Linked DNA regions of Homo sapiens. The protein of the gene in region 1 purifies or fractionates together with the protein of each later gene. This does not show direct contact. Each region holds a gene or a part of one and is shown in the gene's direction. Other genes may lie near its edges. The genes, in order: PCYT1B and SLC36A4.

The links.
Region 2: the proteins of PCYT1B (region 1) and SLC36A4 fractionate together in Homo sapiens (co-fractionation; one large-scale study listed by BioGRID). This does not show direct contact.

Annotation. Positions count from the first base shown.
Region 1 is NC_000023.11:24,637,288-24,641,114, reverse strand, and holds part of PCYT1B (choline-phosphate cytidylyltransferase B), read left to right. Parts: intron 1-653; exon of another isoform or gene 654-773; intron 774-3,827.
Region 2 is NC_000011.10:93,180,719-93,184,545, reverse strand, and holds part of SLC36A4 (neutral amino acid uniporter 4), read left to right. Parts: intron 1-25; coding exon 26-116; intron 117-1,651; coding exon 1,652-1,740; intron 1,741-2,759; coding exon 2,760-2,855; intron 2,856-3,664; coding exon 3,665-3,749; intron 3,750-3,827.

The DNA of each region.
Region 1 (3,827 bases):
TAAAAATACAAAAATTAGCCGGGTATGGTAGTGTGCTCCTGTAATCCCAGCTACTTGGGAGGCTGAGGCAGGAGAATCGCTTGAACCCGGGAGACGGAGGTTGCAGTGAGCCGAGATCATCCCTCTGCACTCCAGCCTGAGTGACAGAGCGAGACTCCATCTCAAAAAAACAAAAAGATCAAGGAAGGCACAGTTTGTTTTCTGGCTCCAACTAGTGAGTGCCATCACTGAGATGGGTGTGCCAGGGAAGTAGAGTTTGTGAGAGTTATGTCTGAGGTGCCATGGGGACTTCCACTTGGAGGTGTCTAGTTCATGTTTGGTTGGGGAACTCAGGAGAGAGTTCTGAGCTGGAGATATAGATCTGGGAGATAGCATGGAGGAGATGGAAGTGAAATTGAGGCAGTGAAATGGATGAGAGTGAAATTGAGATAGTTTCTGGACTGAGAAGGAAGTGGATGGAGATGGTTACCTAGGAAGAGTGCCTCAGGATAATCCCACTACAGGGCTAATTCTAGAAAGTAACTGACCCTGAGCCATCCTATCAGGTTCTTAGAGGGGGAAAATAGAGGAGCTGTAATTAAAGCTATTAGACTCCTCCTTCTATTCATCTGTCTCTACATGAAATCTGGTTAAGCTAATCTACTTTATCCCAGAATCTTCCCAGGTTGGAACCCTAAGAAAGACTACTTAAAGGGCCAATAGAAGAAGGATCATGAAAAGAAGACAGAGAAGTATTTCTCAAATAACTGGGAGATCAAGGGACCAAGGGCAGGGTAAGTTTCATGGAGGGAATGTCCAATAGAATCAAATGCAGTAGAGAGATCAAATGAGTTAAGGAGGAAAAGTTTCCTTTGGATTTAGAAAGAAGAGGTCAGTGGTGATGTTTCAGTGAAGTGGTGGGAGCGGAGGCTGGATGGCAGTAGATTGAGGAGCCTATAGGTGGTAGGGAAGTGGAAGCTTGACTGAGAGAGGAAGCAGATAGAATGTACAGTACCCAGAGGTGGACAAATCAGGGCTTAGGGTTACTAGAGACTAGCTTTTCCCCTTCCTTCTTTCGTTCCTTTCATCTTCCCTCCCTTCATCTTTTTTTCCTTTTATTTCTCATTCCTTTCATCCATCCAAGATGTCAGATCTTTTGGTTGGCTCATTCTTTTAAGATGATAGCAACTTGTGCCTAAATATAAATGGGAAAGAGCCAGTGGGAGAGGGAAGGGGCGATGGTGATGGGGACAACTGATGAAGGGAATGTCTCTTAGGCTGGACAGGTTGGGCTCCAGTGCACAAGTGGAAGGATTGGCTTCAGGGAGAAAAAAAGACACCTCTCCCACTGTAGTGGCAAGGAAGCTGGCAAGGATGGTTTGGGCAAGAACAAGTTATAAGAGGAAGGGTACTGAAAGTTGAAGGCCTCTCTATCTGATAGCCTGTTTTTCATCTGTGAAGGTGGAAGCAAAATCATGGTGGCTTATTTCTGGCTAGTACGGAACTATAATTCTGGTATATCCTGGGTAGTTGAGTCCAGCCCCAGGATATGTCCTCTCCTGAGGCCTCCAGGCTGTGGGTAGGGAGAAGTGGAAAGGCTGAGATGGTTCCTGATGAGATGCAGTGATGAGAGCAAATGGATCTGCTTCGTTGTGGCCTCTGGGACTCCACACCAATGCCCATCAAGCCAAGTCTAGATCTGGCCAGGGAGAGCTGAACTAGCCCACGGTGAAAGGACAGGGGGCTGTCAAGACAAATGTGCTAAAGCTTGGTCTGGACTTGCTGGAGCCCATAGTCTTGTTCCAGTGTCAGTTTTGCCATTGAATTATTGTGTGCACTTAAGCAAATCACTTTCCTCTCTGGATTCCATTCTGTCCCCGACAATGGATTGGATAGATCCTTAGAGTGTGATTCTAGCTTTCATTGCCTTGGAACTTGGTCTACTGCAGTATGTTCTGTTTGAGCTCATGCTCCTATCAAAAGTCTGGGCTACCCCATTCCTCACCCCCTGTTGGTTTTATCCATTTGGGGTAAAAACAGGTTGCATGATCTTATGGTAAGACACACTGGCTAAATATGAATAACAAATGTTCACAAGCACTTTGAAGTTTTACATTGATGTTGTACAAACCACTTCTGCTGTCTTCTGTTTTATTCTTCAGATGCTTTCTCAGACAGGTTGAATGTATTCCAAATCATATATGGAATGTTCTATTCATTGTTTCGGGAAACCTGTGTTGAATCTCTTCTTAATGTGAACAGTAGCCTCCTAATTTATCTATTTCATACTACAGAAGTTTGAAACATTGGGCCTTCTTTGAGGCATGGCAGTATGGGCTTGAACTATAGAGGCCTTTCTTAATCAATGTTGTCCATCTAAGCTTGCTACTTGGGGTTAAAGTCCAGCAATGGGTCAGGCTGTAGTCCCAAAACTCTTACATCTTTAGCTGGTGCCCCACACAAAGCTTCTCAGTGACTGTTAGGGAAATAAATGCAGGAAAATAATTATCCCATCAGATCACTGGGGGGAAGAATGAAAAGGAAAAAAAAGCAAGGAAGGTAGAAACAAACTAAGTCATTGCAAGCTAGGCCTATTTTCTTCCAATAATCTCCCAGGTAACAGCCTCTACCTTGCTAGGATCTGATTACCCGTTGCTGGCCTCAGACCATAGCATTATTGTTTTAACATTCCTACCTTCCTCTTTATCCCAGCATGAACTGGGTTGTATGGGAGGCTGGGAAGCTGACCTTGCTTGGGGATAAAGAGACAGTTTAGCACTCAACAATCTTGAAGGCAGACTTGAAAACACAGTGATTAGAAAATAAAGCAGTGAGCCCTGGTAGTGTGCGCCTGTGTAATAGTGTGCAGGGCCACACGGGGCTAGCCTATTGAGCAGAATTCATTTTCATATAATCTCCTCCCTCCCGCCAAAATCTTTGACTTGGTGTTTTTGTTTTCTACTCGGTAATTCATGCATGCTGAACCTGACATCAGGATGCTGAGGGTTATTTAAACTGTCATTTAAGAAAAATAACAACGGTAATAGGTTAATAGAAACATCATGAATGATGTGTACAGCCTATTGCCAACCAAATGATGTTGAAAGCCCATTCCTGGTACATGCAGGCTTCTGTGTTTCATCTCTGGTGTGCCTAATATTGACTGTAGGCACAGTCACATAATAATAAATTCTATTGTACCTCCAAATTGTTTAGTTATAAGGTAATTGTTCTATATGGGATGCAAGGCTAGTGGTCTCACTCCTTTTTCTCCATGGGCAAGTCGGGGAATTGAACAACCATTCACAGTGCACACTGTATTGGGCACTGTGTTGAATGCTCTATATGTATTATCTCATTTAATCAGGCTGCAGACCCATGAAATAAGCATTACTATTCCTCATGTTATAAGTAAGGAAATAAATAATCAAGTAATTTCCCAAAGATCCAAAAAGATACATATGTATATTTTTGAGATGAAGTCTTGCTCTGTCACCCAGGCTGGGTGCAGTGGCATGATCTCAGCTCACTGCAACCTCCGCCTCCCAGGTTCAAGTGATTCTTCTGCCTCAGCCTCCCCAGTAGCTGGGATTACAGGTGCACGCCACCACGCTCAGCTAATTTATATATATATATATATATATTTTTTTTTTTTTAGTAGAGATGGGGTTTCACCATGTTGGCCAGGATGGTCTTGAAGTCCTGACCTCAAGTGACCCTCCCGCCTCGGCCTCCCAAAGTGCTAGGATTACAGGCGTGAGCCACCGTGCCCGGCCCCAAAGATCAAATATTAACTGATTAAGCTGGGAGTTGAAATTAGGTTTGTCTGACTTCTAAAGCCCCTATTT
Region 2 (3,827 bases), on another chromosome or scaffold:
AAGTCTTACAACTTTTACTTTTCAGATTTGTACAAACTCTTATGCACCTTCTTAAAGGAAATATTGGAACTGGCCTTTTAGGACTTCCATTGGCAATAAAAAATGCAGGCATAGTGGTAAGACTTATCTTTGTAATCACCAGTTAAGATGCAGTTCTCAGTCTCATTTATAGCAACCTAATATCTGGCCTAGTCAAATATAACCTGGTAAGGTGACATTTAGATGATCATTTAGATGTTGTCTTGATAAAATTGTGTCAACTGTGATAATGATATTTAACAAAAAATAATAATTACTTTATTCATTTCTACTTCATTACTTATTTGTAATATTTAGCCAAAAAAAAGCCACAAACCTAAAACAGTCTTTGATTTTTCCAGGTATAGTTATATCTTATTATTATTTTAGATTTTCAGGAATTGAATTTAGCAGTGTAATCACAGCAACAAATATATTTATAGAGCAGATTATTGGTAACGTGACATTGTATAGTTTTTTTAGAGTCAAATATACAGTTTTCAGAATTTAAATAACAGTTAAGAAAAGTTGGCCGGGTGCGGTAGCCCATGCCTGTAATCCCAGCACTCTGGGAGGCCGAGGTGGGCAGATCACGAGGTCAGGAGATTGAGACCATCCTGGCTAACACGGTGAAACCCCGTCTCTACTAAAAAATGCAAAAAATTAGCCGGGCGTGGTGGCGGATGCCTGTAGTCCCAGCTACTCGGGAGGCTGAGGCAGGAGAATGGCGTGAACCCAGGAGGTGGAGTTTGCATTGAGCTGAGATTGCGCCACTGCACTCCAGCCTGGGCGACAGAGCAAGACTCTGTCTCAAAAAAAAAAATAAATAAATAAATAAAAGAAAAGTAATAACAATAACTTTTAAAAACCAATATGTAAAGCATTGTTAGAGGCAGTTATTGTAATTATTATAATTGCAGAGAACCTTGATAGGGGAGAAACCCATTTATGAGGTAATAAAATAATATTTAACTTTTTTGAATAGACCACTTTCTAAAAACAGTTTTAACTATCCCTGCATTTGACTGTTTTGTTCCCCTAATTTAGATGATAAAAACTTTTGATTATAAAAATAAACTTTGGCAATATTTTGGTTGTATCTGGGTAATTACTAGCATTGCTTTAATTTTAGTAAATAAATATTTAAAGTATTTTATTTACTACTTTTTGAAATAATTATTTTATAAGCATGGTTTCTGACACATAGTAAGTACCCAAGAAGCAGTCTGTAGAAGAAATAAATTGCTCACAGTCTCCGTTTGATATTGTGCGTTTTCGGGATTTAGATAATGATGCATGGTTGCATATAATTATAATGGTGGGTCACTGATAGTTGTAGACTTGCCATCTGATGTTAAATATGATCTTGTGTTCTATCCTACTTTGTTGTCTATACTCCATATTCGTAGGTTTGAGTAGCTATGTTAATAAGATGGAATTATACATGGTTGTCTTAAATATTACTCGAAATTCCTTCTGCATCAAGTTTATTAGTTTTCCCTTATGCAATGACTAATCATTTTGCTCAACAAATATTTATTCACTGCACGTGAATAATCCATTGATTCATTGCTTATAAGATTACTCAATTTCTGTTAAATATTTAAACCTTATAAATTTTTTTTCCCCACAGCTTGGACCAATCAGCCTTGTGTTTATAGGAATTATTTCTGTTCACTGTATGCACATATTGGTACGTTGCAGTCACTTTCTATGTCTGAGGTAAATGTGGATTTGTTAAGCCTATTTATTTTAAAGCTATCTTTTATTTACAGCATCAGATAGTCTTATATTCTACTGTGCTTTGTATTTCGTTTAAGCTTTTACGTAGATAAATCTAAGGTAATGAATATGGAAGAAGGTAGCATTTCATATAATTTAAATCTGGTTGGAATCTATTTATTTTTAAAAGGTAGCCTTATTAGTGAAATAGTATGGTTTCTCTTAGTATAAATGGAAAAAATTAGAAAAGATATATAGAGGCAATGGAGACAGTGGTGTGATTTTTAGCTATAGCATAATAGTCTTCAATGTGTTAGTAATTCTGTTTTGATTATAATGCCTTTGGTGCTCTCTGCTGATGTATGAGTTAGTAGATAGTCAACAACACAATATTATTTGTCTTTATTTTTGTATCATGAAATACTTCTACTGGACAGTAGACCATATGTATTCTAGTAGCCTAATATCAAGTCTTGACTCTTTTTTGTTGTTGTTATATACTCTTAAAACTTTGGGCAAATCATTTATGAGCTTTATAGAACAATGTATACTTGGGAAAAAAAAAGAGAGAATGGAGAAATAATACCTACCTCATGGGAAGATTAAATGAGATAGTTTATGTGAAAATGTATTGTGCAGCCTTGCACAGATGTATTATTAAATAATGCTGTTCTAAGAATGGAATAATTTAGACATGAATAATGTAGTTGATGTTTTAGGCATTTGAAATATTTAAATTAATAAAGTACAAATATTAAGTTACATGAGTTCTGCACTTACATAAACTTTAGCAGTAGATAAAATTAATGTACTGGTAAAAAGGACAGATTTAAACATTTAAAACTTTATGAGGCATGCTTTAGAAGTATGCAGATCTTGACATTTTGGTAACTCATTTGTCAGTTCATAGCCTTGCATTTATTAATTCCCATTTATTTTATGTTTATTTCAAGAGGTGGTTTTATGGACCACCTTAAAATTTTTCTTTTTTCCTTTGTATGTATGTCATTAAATTACAGGTTTAAAAAGTCAACATTAGGTTATAGTGACACTGTGAGCTTTGCTATGGAAGTGAGTCCTTGGAGTTGTCTTCAGAAGCAAGCAGCATGGGGGCGGTAAGTACTTACTCTGTTATTAATATATGATTGTTAAAATTATGTTAATTTTAAGTATTTTAACCTAACAATATATATAAATAAAAATATGATAAAGTTGGGGAATAAACATATGTAACCCTTAGAGTTAAACAGACTTAGATTCTAATCTCAACTTGACCATTTTTCAGCTTTCTGACCTTGATCAAATTATTTATCATTGTGGTTTGTTTTTCTCAGTATGAAATGAGTTTACAGTAATACCCATTTCACAGGATCATTATGGTAGATGAAGTAAAATGATATTTATAAAGCATGACCTGGTCAAATGATGACATAATCGTGTTCATTAATTTTTTAAATAAAGGAAAACAAGAAAAATGTTGCAGTCTCATTATTTCAAATAAATTTGTAGTATTTGTATGCTTATCTGAGGTATGGCTATATTTTAGCATAACCTTATTTTATTGTCTTGTTACTTAAATGTAACTTTATTATTGGTGGCTCTGGCAAATCAAAGTAAGATGAATACAGGACTAGAAAAATAAGGAAGCATAAGCAGTCAGCAAAGTGCTACCTGTTGTAAAGATGACATGTGAGATGGGAATTAAAAGAAGAACAGTGTTAGTAGAGTAGTTTATAGTTAAGTGTGGCCTTTCTGGAGATTTTCAGGAAGTTAGATTTGGCATGAACTGCTCTGAGTTCCTGACATACTGAGTAGGAGAATATATGCTATAATAAAATGTTTTAAAACTCTTGAAAAGAGAAATAAAATATATTGACATTTCAGTAGCTCTCCTGGATACTCATTTGTGGATATCTTTTTTCAGGAGTGTGGTTGACTTTTTTCTGGTGATAACACAGCTGGGATTCTGTAGTGTTTATATTGTCTTCTTAGCTGAAAATGTGAAACAAGTGAGTATTTTTCTCCAGTTAGTGAAATCATTTTCTTCTAAAGCCCTAGTTATGGCTTCATATATCTTCTGTGGAAGC